4 linked regions of the Homo sapiens genome follow. The protein of the gene in region 4 purifies or fractionates together with the protein of the main gene of each other region. This does not show direct contact. Each region holds a gene or a part of one and is shown on either strand. Other genes may lie near its edges.

What was found. The genes of interacting proteins can lie anywhere in the genome.
Region 1: the proteins of ARHGAP29 (region 4) and PRP4K purify together in Homo sapiens (affinity purification with mass spectrometry; one large-scale study listed by BioGRID and IntAct). This does not show direct contact.
Region 2: the proteins of ARHGAP29 (region 4) and RTRAF purify together in Homo sapiens (affinity purification with mass spectrometry, with the first as the bait; one large-scale study listed by BioGRID). This does not show direct contact.
Region 3: the proteins of ARHGAP29 (region 4) and RSF1 fractionate together in Homo sapiens (co-fractionation; one large-scale study listed by BioGRID). This does not show direct contact.

Annotation. Positions count from the first base shown.
Region 1 is NC_000006.12:4,052,300-4,055,799, reverse strand, and holds part of PRP4K (serine/threonine-protein kinase PRP4 homolog), read right to left. Parts: intron 3,081-3,500; coding exon 2,927-3,080; intron 248-2,926; coding exon of another isoform or gene 224-247; exon of another isoform or gene 1-223. UniProt on the Homo sapiens protein: Serine/threonine kinase involved in spliceosomal assembly as well as mitosis and signaling regulation. Connects chromatin mediated regulation of transcription and pre-mRNA splicing.
Region 2 is NC_000014.9:51,996,046-51,999,545, reverse strand, and holds part of RTRAF (RNA transcription, translation and transport factor protein), read right to left. Parts: intron 1,053-3,500; coding exon 966-1,052; intron 1-965. UniProt on the Homo sapiens protein: RNA-binding protein involved in modulation of mRNA transcription by Polymerase II. Component of the tRNA-splicing ligase complex and is required for tRNA ligation.
Region 3 is NC_000011.10:77,670,723-77,674,222, reverse strand, and holds part of RSF1 (remodeling and spacing factor 1), read left to right. Parts: intron 1-1,992; coding exon 1,993-2,181; intron 2,182-3,500. UniProt on the Homo sapiens protein: Regulatory subunit of the ATP-dependent RSF-1 and RSF-5 ISWI chromatin-remodeling complexes, which form ordered nucleosome arrays on chromatin and facilitate access to DNA during DNA-templated processes such as DNA replication, transcription, and repair.
Region 4 is NC_000001.11:94,231,085-94,234,584, reverse strand, and holds part of ARHGAP29 (rho GTPase-activating protein 29), read left to right. Parts: intron 1-2,941; 5' UTR 2,942-2,973; coding exon 2,974-3,178; intron 3,179-3,500. UniProt on the Homo sapiens protein: GTPase activator for the Rho-type GTPases by converting them to an inactive GDP-bound state. Has strong activity toward RHOA, and weaker activity toward RAC1 and CDC42. May act as a specific effector of RAP2A to regulate Rho.

The DNA.
Region 1 (3,500 bases), on a different chromosome or scaffold from region 4:
AATCCCTCAAATATAAAGAAGGTATTAGTCAAGAAAATGTTAAATATATCTGGCAAAACTGATAAACATGAACTCTATATTAGTCATTTGTTTCTTTTTTCCTTTGTAAATACTTCAACATACACAGTAATAGTGACATCTGCTGAGAAAGGCTGGAGTTGCTCCCATGACTGCTGCCACTCATGAGTCAGAGGCATGTTCAGGATTAACAAGTGAAGATAATTCATATTCCAGAGTCCCTTCCCCCCTTCAAAAGAGACACACACAAATTCCGAGTTGGGACTTGAACTTGGCCTACTGCTCCCACCCCAAAGCAGCATAACACTATAGCCTTAGGCAGTCTCTATGGGGAGACTGGACTATTATAAATGATATCCAGAGTTAAGCTATTAATAGGAACAGAAATGATTATTTTTAACTCCCACATTGATTACTATTCTTTTCATCTTGGGAATCAGAAAAGCATCTTAAAATAGAAAAGTTATTTTAAAACTTTTTAAAGTGTAAGCTGAATTCAGCTACTTAAGCAGTTTCAATACCCACAGAAAACTTAAGAACCATTTTAAAATTAGAATCCATCAGTGGAACTCTTGGGCTGGCTAAAATGCCTTAAAGAATAGCAGGGTATCCATACTCATATGCACTTCAGTTTGCTACACAACTTCTGCTCCTGTCATGAGGAATGTGGTACTTAAACCACACTGATACCTGAAATTACGAGCTAAAGGCTTTGGATTTTCATTAACAAAAATCAGCTCCGTCATTAAGGTCTATTTTTTCCTTCCCCAGGAAGACGGGAAAACATTTCTTAAATGTATGTGAAAACCTATACTAGTTTAGCATTAGGTTTTAAAAACAAGAGTTTCTTCTGTGACACTGGCAAATGTGTTATTCTTTAACCTCCACAATGGTCACAAAGACGCTCACTGTAAATGACCTTTTAAATTGTACATGTTTTGCATATTCTTTGACATGAACCATGTATTTCACAATTAAAAAACAAAAAATTGGCTCACGCTTATAATCCCAGCACTTTGGGAGGACGAGGCGGGCAGATCACGAGGTTAGGAGATTAAGACCATCCTGGCCAACATGGTGAAACCCCGTCTCTACTAAAATACAAAAATTAGCTGGGCGTGGTGGCCCCTGCCTGTAATCCCAGTTACTCGGGAGGCTGAGGCAGGAGAAATGCTTGAACCAGGGAGTTGGAGGTTGCAGTGAGCCGAGATCACGCCATTGCACTCCAGCCTGGTAACAGGGCAAGGCTGTGTCTCATAAAAAAAACTGAGGTAAAAATCAACTATGAAATTGGCCACACAAATTTATACTTCATTTTTAATGTACCTACCATTTCAATGAAATTACTCAGCTCCCCTAACTCCAAGTTACATTAGATATACAATACAATAATAATTCAGACCAAACATAAAAATGGAATACACCTCATTACTAATGTGGTTGTCTGGAAGGAAATAAAGGAAATATTTTAAGATATTAACAAAAAAGAAAAAGAAATATGAATTAAATAGCTTAGTTATTGATTAAAAAAAAACTCCTTAAACTTTAATGAGATCACCATTTTTTAAAGAATTTATCTTGGCCAAGCATGGTAGCTCACACCTATAATCCCAGCACTTTGGGAGGCTGCAGCAGGAGGATTGCTTGAGCCCAGGAGTTTGAGACCAGCCAAACCTCATCTCTAAAAAAAATTTTTTTTAATTAGGCAGTCACAGTGGCATGTGCCTGTGGGTAGTCCCAGCTACTGGGGAGGCGGAGGCAGGAGAACTGCTTGGGCTTAGGAGTTGGAGGTTACAGTGAGCCATTATGGCACCACTGCACTCTAGCCTGGGTGACAGAACAAGACCTTACCTCAAAACAAAACAAAACAAAACAAAAAAAACAAAAGAAAAAATCAAAAGTATTTATTTTGTTATAGCTCCAAGAGTTCCCAATAAAGAACACCTTACACGCTTAGCTTTTAGTCTTCAGGATCTCTCCTAGGCATCAACTGTAGGAGAACTGATAAAGAGAACCCATTTTAAAAAAATGAAATGCAGAATGTTACCAGCATATAAGCTGGAATTCTCCAAGTTGCGAACACGACCCAAACTGAAGGCCACAAAACAGGGTAAAGTAATGGGGCCAGGGAGGGGAGGAGTGTGTGTGTGCATTAATCACATCACTATGATAATATGTATGTATTTCAAAATTTTAAAAACATATACATTGTGAAATCTGCTGTTACCACCAGAAGTCACTAGTCGAAGAGAATTAAGGTTTCAAAAGGTGAGAACACATGGACACACAGGGGAACAATACACACTGGGGTCCGTCAGAGGCTGGAGGGTGAGAGATGGGAGAGGATCAGGAAAAGTGGGTACAAACCCTCCATGACACAAGTTTACCTATGTAACAAGCCTGCACATGTACCCCTGAACTTGAAAGTTTAAAAATAAAATAAAATAAACTTCAAAAGCGATGCCTTTAAATATAATACCTAACCACAACTGAGCTTTATTGTGTTTGAGCCCCCAGGAGCCACAGCTTAGGGAGCTATAAAATTAGCAAACAGAAGAGTACGGACACTCCTTATTTCAAAACAGCAACATGTGCAGCATTTTTCTAAAGATAACAGAAGAAACTCATTACTACAGTAAAGCATTCCAGGATTGGTGCACACTTTAAATCTATCAGTCAAAAGAGAAAAAAAGGGACAATTGTACATTTCCTTTTTCTTCATACTTGTCAATAAAATTTCACTGTCCGATTTCCAAGAAAGATAAAAAAGTATTAGTCATTTGAAATAGGTTATTAATATACTGAACTATGCTTCTAAGATGTCGTTTCTCATAGTAATAATATTACTGCTAGTAAGAAGTGAAATGTATGTTCAAGATGTACAGCGCAGCTTGGCTGTTTGACTTACCAGGATATTGTCTGGCTTGATATCTGCATGTAGGATATTGCATCTTTTAAGGAGTTTCAATGCCAGGAACAACTGCTGACTATAGGATCTTACAGCTTTAATATGAAGACCAACATCTTTACCATATTTTTTTAACACCTCTCGTAAGTTCATGCTTTTAGGAGAAAATTAAAAAAAGAAAACAAAATAGGAGTTAAAATGCAAAATGGAAATATAAAAAGGCAAAAACATTTGCAAGCATAAAGTAAAATCAAGCGCAAAATAAAAATATGTAAGAACCACCCCCACATTTGATAAATCATTTTATATTGAAAGGAGAGCATATCAAATTGTATGTATATAACACAGTTTCTGAATAAATTCAAATTTTCTAAATAGGTAAGAAGAAAGATATGCAAGGTAAAACTCCCATTTCGATTTTAGAATAGATTCACATCTGAAAACACAACAAAGCCACACTGTTGAAGATAAAAATTCCTTCCTTGAAGTATTTCATTTTAAGAGAGACTCTCTGTTGAACCCGGGAGGTGGAGGTTGCAGCGAGCCAAGACTGCACCACTGTACTCCGGGAGGA
Region 2 (3,500 bases), on a different chromosome or scaffold from region 4:
TCAACAATTAAATAAATTGGTAAGATAAAATGGTTTTCCTATTACTGTATGAGACGGTCCCCAACTTAGGATGGTTAGACTTGTAATTTTTTGACCTTACAATGAGTTCAGTGGGATGTAACCCTAGTGCAAGATGAGGAAAATCTGAACTTACAGTGGTTCCAACTACAATTTTTCAGCTTTACAATGGGTCTTCCGGGGTATTAAATGCATTTTTGACTTATGATATTTTCGACTTTGGGACATGATCTCATCCTAAGTCAAGGAGTATCTGTATTTCATCAGCCAAACTGAATAATCCAATAAATGACTAATTTAACTCACATTATATTTGTCCTGTAACTTTTTCTGCAAGGCTAAATTATACAGCACTTTTAATTAACATTTCTTCCCAAGGCCATTAATTTTAGTACATAGATCCCCTCCATGGATAGTTTTCCCAAAACCTTCTCTCTAAGCAGCAGCTCTGGAGTGTCCAAGAGGCTCACTCATTCAAAAGGGTTAACTCCTAAATTATAGGTCACAATGAATTAGCCAGTGAACAAATATTTTACACATCATAATTTAGGTAATTAGATTCTTCATATTTTTAAAAAGGGAAATTACTAAAAGATATCCAGGACTTAAAATAATGGAAAATTTTACCACTTGTCTGATAGAGTCATTGGATTAAAAGAAATTTACACATTCAAAAAGGCAAACAATGACCCCCATGATTAAATACAAATCAAAACTCCAAATTACTAGAAGCAAATCAAATCAACATTCAGATATTCAAATGCAAGGGGAAGGAGAAAGCACATCATAAAAACATTATAGAGAATAAAATGTTAACATAAATGCTGTCTGCATGGATCCTTCTAAATTTACTAAAACCAAGTAAACCTGGACTTCATTCTTCAAAGAAAAAAACATTTAAAAAACCAAAAATGTTGATGTTCAATGTTATGCATTTATATACTCACCATCCAAATTGATCAATGGTTCTGCATTTTTAGTTGCATTGTCAGCAGTTTTTGAATTATCAGGTACTAAATCCTTGTATTTTTCAGCTATAAAAACAGGCAAAAATATAATTTGTACAACTGCAACTCAAGGTAAAATGACTACTGCTATTTACCAAATTTAACTGAGCCAAAATGATTACAGGTTGAGTTTCCCTTACTGGAAATGCCAATAATTTCCAATTTTAAATTTTTTCAGACTTCGGATTATCTGCATATATAAAATGGGATATTTTGGGGATGGGACTGAAGTCTAAACACAAAATTCATTTTTATGTTCAATGTACAACTTATACACATAGCCTGAAGGTAATTTCATATAATATTTTTAATAATTTTGTGCATGAAATAAAGTTTGTGTTAAGTGCTTATGTGTGGAAATTTCTACTTGTGTCCTCATGTCAGTGCTCAAAAAGTTTTGGATTTTGGAGCATTTAGGATTTCAGATTCTCGGATTAGGGATGCTTAACCTGTATAAGCATAAAACAATTCATTCAATCAAGCTTAATTTTTGCTATAGAAAATGTAAAAAGACAATGTAACTATCTTTTTGATTAAGCTAAAGCAATTACTGGACTATGTGACACAAATATCTTTTCATTAACATTTCTAAAGGCAATCATTTCAAACATGTAAATTTTAGGAAGGTAAAAATCTGCTTTTACAGCTTCCTCTGAAATCTGGGGTAGAAGAATGGGAGGAGGGTTAAGTATAGGTTACGTAAGATTAAATACAAACTCATTAAAAAGTACGCTTCCCCCCATCTTCTTTTGAATGCTGTACATAAAATCCAAAAACCTTGCTTTCCCCAAAAAAATCAATACATCAAATACACCATCATATACAAACCTCAAACTTATTTCATGGAAACTTGAAATTCAGAATTCCAAAGGTAGATTTTATTATTTTCATTTGAAAAACAATACTTCAAAGGAATTCAAAAATAAAAACACTTATTAATAATTCACTAAACTTAATGTTCAAAATGGCATCTTAGGCTATACAGTGCTTATGGGATCTGTTAATGAAACGAGGAAAAAATAAAAGCATAAAATTTAAGTCAGAGTTAAAAAGGCTTCCACTGGCCAAATCTGGAACAGTATCAACAGCAAAATACGTGATGACAGAAAGGATTATAATCCATTGAATAAAATAAAAATCCATGTATCTATACTGATTTAAACAAGTAAATTAGAGATGGGAAAACTTACAAGAGAAAGCCAACAAATAAATGTAGAAAAAATGATGAAATTAGAGAACACCTTTTGTCGATTAACATAATAAATGACTGAGGCAAGAATCATCATATGGTTGCTAAAACTAGTGGGGGAAACTTGAGGCGCAAAAACATAATTGATACAGTCTCAAAGTACCTCCCCACAAGATATATTTATTACAAAGAGGAAAATAGTAACTTTACAGTGGAGAAACCATAACCTAGTGATCAAAGTAACATAACTAGTAATGGGACATATCGCTATCACGTATCTCCTAATATGATGCACTAAAAAGAACACATCACTTCTGTGTTACTCCTAACAAAAGTATAAACCCCAAATCTAATCATGAGGAAACATCATATAAATCCAAATTGAGGGACACTCTACAAAATAAATGTCAGGGTCATGAAGCACAAATAAAGACAGGAACTGTTCCAGATTTTAAGATACTAAGACAGATGTAACAACTAATGCGGTGCATAATCCAGGATTGCTCTGGGTTATTTTTTTCTTTCGAGAGAAGTGGGGGGTTTGGTAAAATGTGAATAAATAATAGTATATCAAAGATAACTTCCTGATTTTGATCACTGTACTGTGGTTATATAAGACAAAGTTGTTTTTAGGAAATGCACTTTAAAGTGTTTAAGAGTAAAAAGGAATCATCTATAATTTACTATCAAATGGTTTGGAAAAAAATGGTGTGTGCCTCTGTGTAGAGAGAAGGATGAAGCAAATGAGGTAACACGCTACATTTGTAGACTTGAGGTATATGAAAATCTTTGTACTATTTTGTAATTTTTCTATACATCTGAAATTATACATTTAAAAAATTTCAGTTATTGATCATGTTGACAAGCTACCAAAAGGCTTCAAAAAATAGTAGAGCGCAAATAATAAAAACTCACAATGGTTTCAGCAAATTTTAAAATAAGTAACTTAAAAGTCAAGGAGGCAACATATCAATGTAAAACCACAAAAGAACATCAGCGCCTCCTACCGATTAGAGACAGTATTATTTGACCAATTTTCAAGTCTGTTTTTGCAATTCTGAATTTTAATAAACAAAACTTGTTTTCTAGCTTAGACTTTTAATATACTTTTGATACCATTCACCTTCAAGTATATGTTGACTTCCTTTTTCAATATTGAAAAATTTACATTCCACACACAAGCTTCTTTTATTCACTAAAAGAACATGCTATTACTGAGAAATACATGTACTTACTAAAGTCAACTGCAGGTATACATGACCATATGCATCTACCATTGAAGGTTA
Region 3 (3,500 bases), on a different chromosome or scaffold from region 4:
GTGGGTTTTTTTTGGTTTTATTTATCTTTTTTCCTAAACCATCTAAATAAGTGATGATAATATCATGCCCCTTTATCAGTGATTATTTCCTAAGGACAAGGACATTTTCTTACATCACCACAATGCAATTACCAAATTCAGATATTTTAACATTGATATAATGCTATTACCTAATTAACAGTACACATTCAAATTTTTAACAAGTATCTCCATATTATTCTTTATATCTTTTTTTTCTTTTCCTAACCCAGGATCCATTCCAGGGCTATGCGTTTATTCACATCTCTTTAGTCTCCATTAATCTGGAATAATCCTCAAATTTTGTCTCATCTTGATATTTTTAAAGAGTACATACTAGTTGTTTTGTAGATGTTTCCCAGTTTTGATTTCTTTTGTTTCCTTGTGATAAGATTCAGATTATGCATTTATAGTGGGAATAGCACAGAGAATGTTGCATCTTCTGAGTCTCTTTATTATTTTTCCTTATAATTAATAAGTAATTTGTGGGAATTTGAGACTATTTAAATATCCTTTTCCTTATATTTCACCTGCTAGTTTTAGTTCCTGTGGATAATTCTAACTCTGTCATTTCTGTTATATTTATTTATTGTTGTTCTGTAAGGAAGAACATTTCCCTTCTCCTCCATATGTTTGTTTATTTATGACAGTGTAAACTCGTGGATTCTTATTCTGATCAGTGGATATACTACATTCCCATCACTATTTAGGCTCCATTTGTCCCAAATTTGGCCAATGAGAACCACTTCAACCTATTGGCTAGCTATTTTGAAATGTTTGAAATCCACAAAAGAATAACAAGCTTGAATGTCGTACTTCGGTGGAATTTAACATTCTGAAAAACAGCTGTGACATAATGCCACAGCCTCACTCTGGCTTATTGATCAGAGATGACAGGAACAATGCTATTTAGCAGTGCTTTGCAAGTTTAACTAGGTCTGTGTGCTTTATTTAGCAGATTTGTATTCTTTATGGAGAAGAGTCAAAAATATATCTTGAGTTCTGTATTTATGTGGAACAGATTCATGAGTTTTCTTTGGTTAGAGGGCATAACCTCTGCAATACATTATGACTATAGTGACAGGTAGAACAGCATATTATCAGGAGGCGGATTTGTGGTAGCCGTCTACCAAGAAGAGCAGTCATGGCAGCTGTGTACCTGACCAGGTAGCTGTAGGTCGACTGCAGTAAGGACTATTTCTAAAAAAGTATAAAACATTTAGGCTGGGTGTGGTGGCTCACACCTGTAATCCCAGCACTTTGGGAGGCCGAGGCAGGCGGATCACTTGAGGCCAGGAATTCAAGACCAGCCTGGCCAACATGGCGAAACCCCATCTCTACTAAAAATACAAAAATTAGCCAGATGTGGTGGCGGGTACCTGTAGTCCCAGCTACTCGGAAGGCTGAGGCAGGGGAATTGCTTGAACCCGGGAAGTGGAGTTTGCAGTGAGCCAAGATCATGCCACTGCACTCCAGCCTGGGCGACATAGTGAGACTCTGTCTCAAAAACAAACAAACTAAAAAGGATAAAACATTTTCTAATCTTGAGGATTCACCGCTAAGAGTATATATTGTGAGGTTTGGCATTAAAAACCTGCACAGATTGAGTCATTTTTTTTTTTTTTAAGGGAGACTTAAAGGCCAGGCATGTGGTAATCTCAACACTTTGGTAGGTAGCCAGGAGTGGTAGTGCATATGCCTGTGATCCTAGCTTTAGCTACTGGGGCAGCTGAGGCCAAAGGATCTCTTGAGCCCAGGAGGTTGAGGCTGTAGTGAGTCATGTTCATGCCACTGCACTCCAGCCTGTGTGATAGTGAGATACTCTCTCAAATAAAATGAGACTCATAAAAGTTACTGTTCACTTAAAAATATTTATGACTGAACTCTGCTTGGTAGCTTTTCATTTTTATAACCTAAGCTACATTTCTAAATAGACTTAAATTTTGTACTTTGTTCTTCCTTTTTTTAAAATAGAAAGTGACTTCAGTGATGATTTTAGTGATGATTTTGTAGAAACTCGGCGAAGGCGGTCAAGGAGAAATCAGAAAAGACAAATTAACTACAAAGAAGACTCAGAAAGTGACGGTTCCCAGAAGAGTTTGCGACGTGGTAAAGAAATAAGGCGAGTACACAAGCGAAGACTTTCCAGCTCAGAGAGTGAAGGTAAGGCATAGGTCTCCTATATATAGAAGTTTGGACAGGGCAAAATAGACATTATAAAGTGAACTCAGGATTGTGATTCTGTACCATTCTTTGAAACTCATATAACCAGGCCAGGCATGGTGGCTCACGCCTGTAATCCCGGCAGTTTGGGAGGCCAGGGCATGCAGATCACTTGAGGCCAGGAGTTCAAGACCAGCCTGTCCAACATGGTGAGACCTTGTCTCTACTAAAAATAAAAAAATTAGCCTGTGTGGTGATACGCGCCTGTAATCTTAGCTACTCAGGAGGTTGAGGCAGGAGAATTGCTTGAACCTGGGAGGCGGAGATTGCAGTGAGCCAAGGTTGTGCCACTGCACTCCACCCTGGGTGACAGAGCAAGACTGTGTCTCAAAAAAAAAAAAAAAAAATCCATATAACCAGTAGTATCTTTGAGATAAAACCTATAATCTTGTGCCTACCATAGTTTAAATAAAAGATACTCGATAAGAGGCTAATTTTTAAGATCTCCATTGTAATTTAAATTTTCATTGAAACTAGAAAAGTCTCAGAAAATTGTGATCTGATCAAGATTATTCTACTTCTTTTTCTTACTCCCTTATTCATGGCCCTCATTTTGAAATAACCTCTTATGTCCTTAATAGCTAAAAGGTTTCAAATAAAAGTGCCTACTGTCTCTTTCACCTTGACTATGATTTCAGTTGGAAACCGAAATCATTATTTCCTAATAGCTATAACTGTGCCCCCTACCAGTAGTACAAGACAAGCTCTAAAATATGAATTTCTTACATCCATTTAGTCTTTTTTGTTTTACTTAAATTATATATATATAGTGTATATATATATACACACATATATACATATAAATATATATATATATATATATATATATATATATATATATATTTTTTTTTTTTTTTTTTTTTTTTTTTTTTTTTGGTGACAGAGTCTTACTCTGTCACCCAGGCTGGAGTGCAGTGGTGTGATCTTGGCTCACTGCAACCTCCGCCTCCCAAGTTCAAACGATTCTCCTGGCTCAGCCTCCCAATAGCTAGGATTTTAGGCATGTGCCACCAAGCCTGGCTAATTTTTGTATTTTTAGTAGAGATGGGGTTTCACCATGTTGGCCAAGCTAGTCTCGAACTCCTGACCTCAGGTTATCCGCCCACCTTGGCCTCCCAAAGTGCTGGGATTACAGGCGTGAGCCACCGCGCCCGGCTTTATGGCCTGTTTTGAAGATTGTTTTGCTTTCATAGATTAAACATGAATTTAAGTTTGAGCCCAAGACAAAAGAGAAAGGGAAAAAAAATGTTTGGATGTGG
Region 4 (3,500 bases):
ATGTAGAAGTTAGATTCTCAGAAATAATTTGAGATTGACAAAAGGACAGTGAATAAACAAACTTTAAAAATTATAAAGTGTGGTCCCCAGTTTAATAATCAGGAGGAGCAATAATAGAAATCCAACTTTGATTTCAGTTTTATGTAATCTTCCCTCAGCTTCATATACTTTTCTTTTTGAAACATACCATTTTAGAGAGTTTTTTAAAAATTTATATTTTCACTTCAAAACATTGCAACAACCCAGAGTTATTTTTGTTTCTATAAAAATTAATTGAAACTTTATAAGTTTATAAGCCTATCTGCAGATAGTTCTAAGTAGTTCATTCCTCATACGCCAAGCATTGTGCTATGATCAGAGAACACATGGTTAGCAAATAGACATACATGGTCTTGATTTCCATGAGATTATACTCTAGCTAGGAAGACATGATCTATTTGAACTGTGGTATGAGCAGTGATGAAAAGTAGAGGATACTATGGAACATCTCACAGGAGATTCTACTCTGGTTTGATGGTAGTGGTTTTGCTGGGGGATGGGGATGGTCCAGGAACGTTTCTTTGAGGAGGTAAGCTTTGAGCTGAGATCAGAGTGAGTAAACAAAGGAGAAGGAATATTCCAGGCAAATAGAATTACATATAGACAGGACCCTGAGCTGAACAGTTGGTGTTTTTCAAACTGTAGGGTCATGACCTATTATGTGTATGAAACCAAGTTGGTGAGTTGCACCCAGCATTTTTAAAAATGAAATGGGATGGAATTTTTAAAAACTCACATACATCCCATGGAGCCTTACCCAGAAGCATGCCACACACAAACATAATACACTTAACATGTATTATTATGTAAAATTATTTCCTGGTGAGAGTCATCGTAAACAAATACTGTTGGAAGAATGAGAAGGAGGTGTGTGTGGCAGGAGTGTTGAGAGCCAGCAGGTGTGTCTCCATATGACATTGCACAGGTAGGTAGGAGCCAGATCTCATGTTGAGCCTTGTAGAGCATGATAGCTTCTCACTTATACTTTGGAAGGGTTTTCAGTAGAGAAATGACATTATGAGATTTATGTTTGAAATGTTCACTCACTACATTTGTGATGAGACAAGAATGGATGCAGATAGATCATTAGGAAAGTAGTATAGTAGCTCAGAAAAGAAATGATGGTAATTCACTAGTGTGGTAGCAGTAGAGAGAAGTGGGTTGATTAGAGAACCCTGTAGATCAGAAAGAAAAATGAACTATGGAGTTGGGTGAGATATAGGAAGGAGTAAATGATACAATAATGTATCTTACATATGACTAGAAACGGATATTACATAAAACTTCCTAGTGGGCCAGGCATGGTGGCTCATGCTTGTAATCCCAGCATTTAGCTAGGCTGAGGTAGGAGGATCACTTGAGCCCAGGAGTTTGAGACCAACCTGGGCAACATAGTGAAACTGTATCTCTACAAAAAAAAAATTTTTTTTTTAGCTAGCTAGGTGTGGTGTTGTGCCCCTGGAGTCCCAGCTACATGGGTGGCTTTGGCGGGCAGATGGCCCGAGCCCAGGAGTTTGAGGCTGCAGTGAGCTATAATCACACCACTGCACTCCAACCTGGGTGATAGCGTGAGACCCAGACTCAACCCTTCCCCCCTCCAAAAAAAAAAAAAACCAAAAAACTTTCTACTGTAAATTTTATAGAAGTCCTTAGTCATCTACCATTTTTAAAGTAGCCAAATATTCAAGACAAAATACTTGAAAAAAAGTGTTAATAATAAAGTGTGAGTTAATTTAATTCCTCCGGTTATTTCCTTTTTGATTTCCAGAGATACAAACAAGATTAGAACTTTTAACTCTGGAAAGGTAAAATGAGGGTGAAGAAGAAAATAACTATGATTTTCTTGAGTTCCAGCTATGTGCCAGTATTAGGTGTTTTAACATATGAAGTCTTCTAATTTTGTGATCCCTTTTCATCCTCACACAAGCCTGTAAATAAATTGTACTGGTCACATATCTAGAAAATACTAGAGCCAGGATTCAAATCTAAATTCTTCTCATACCAAAAGATTACCTTTTTACTACCATCCTGAGATTATCAAAAATATTGCTCTGATGATCACACGTGTTTATTTAACCAGTCAGAGTATGTCAGATTAGTGGGCACCCTTGTAACTTATTTTCAACAAAGAAATATCCTTGATGAGACTTGGTAATCCAGGATGTGTTGTGTGTGTGTGTCTGTGTATATGTATGTATATGCATTATTAGGAAAAACTAACTGTAATTGAACTTCTATGTTCTCGACACTTCTGTATCATCGCGTCATGTAATCCCTACAATCTCATGAGATAGGTGTTGTCAGGATGTTACTCCCATTTTATAAATGAGCATACTGAAGTAAAGAGATGAATAGATCATACAATAAGTGACAGAGGAGGATTTTAAGAACAGGTATTTCTTTTTTCAAAGCCCATATCTCATCTTTATTTTTGAAGGTGATGTCATGGAAGGAGAATATGACCTTCTACTAAGTGATGTTTCAGAACAACTTTTACAATTAAATAAAATTCTATACCCTAGGAATCAAGAGGAAGTTATTAAGAGCATGGATTTTGGCATCAAGGCAGATACAGGTTTAAGTCCTAGTTCATTATCAGTTGAGAGCTTAAGGCAAATTTTTAACCTCTAAACCTCAGGTTCCTCATTTGTGAAATGTAAAGAACAGTAGTTTGCATGTCAGAGTTGTCGGAATTACTGGTATTTAATAAATGGAAACTGCTATTATCAATAATACAGTGATTGATTATTGATTTTTGATTTTTAAAAATTTAAAAATAGGATACCAAGGTGAGCTGTGGGCTGTTTGTGAAAATCTAGTGTAATATTTCCCTGGCTGATTTAGTTTTTGTGTTTCTTTCTCTCTCCTCGCTTGTTTTTGTTTTGTTTCTTGCCCCCTTAAGGATTTCAGTTTTTCTGACTGTTACATGAAAGGATGATTGCTCACAAACAGAAAAAGACAAAGAAAAAACGTGCTTGGGCATCAGGTCAACTCTCTACTGATATTACAACTTCTGAAATGGGGCTCAAGTCCTTAAGTTCCAACTCTATTTTTGATCCGGATTACATCAAGGAGTTGGTGAATGATATCAGGAAGTTCTCCCACATGTTACTATATTTGAAAGAAGCCATATTTTCAGGTTTGTCACTTTTCTATTAGCATTCTTGCTGGATAGTTTGTAAAATTTTAAATGCTGGCCTAGCAGATAAGTTTGTACACAGTGGTAGGAACAGGGTATTCTGCTTTAGTTATTTTAGTGCTTTTTTCCCCAAATCTTTGATGGTTACAGTGTAAACTATTTTATAATCAGATAATAGTGTAATACCTAATAGAAACTTCAGTGTGAGGGAATAAGAATACAAAAAAGAAAAATATCTTTGATTCCTGTGGTTGGGTCCATTTGACGTAGGAAAATTTGACATCATTGGAATTTTAACCTTTCTGTTAATGGTAACACAGTG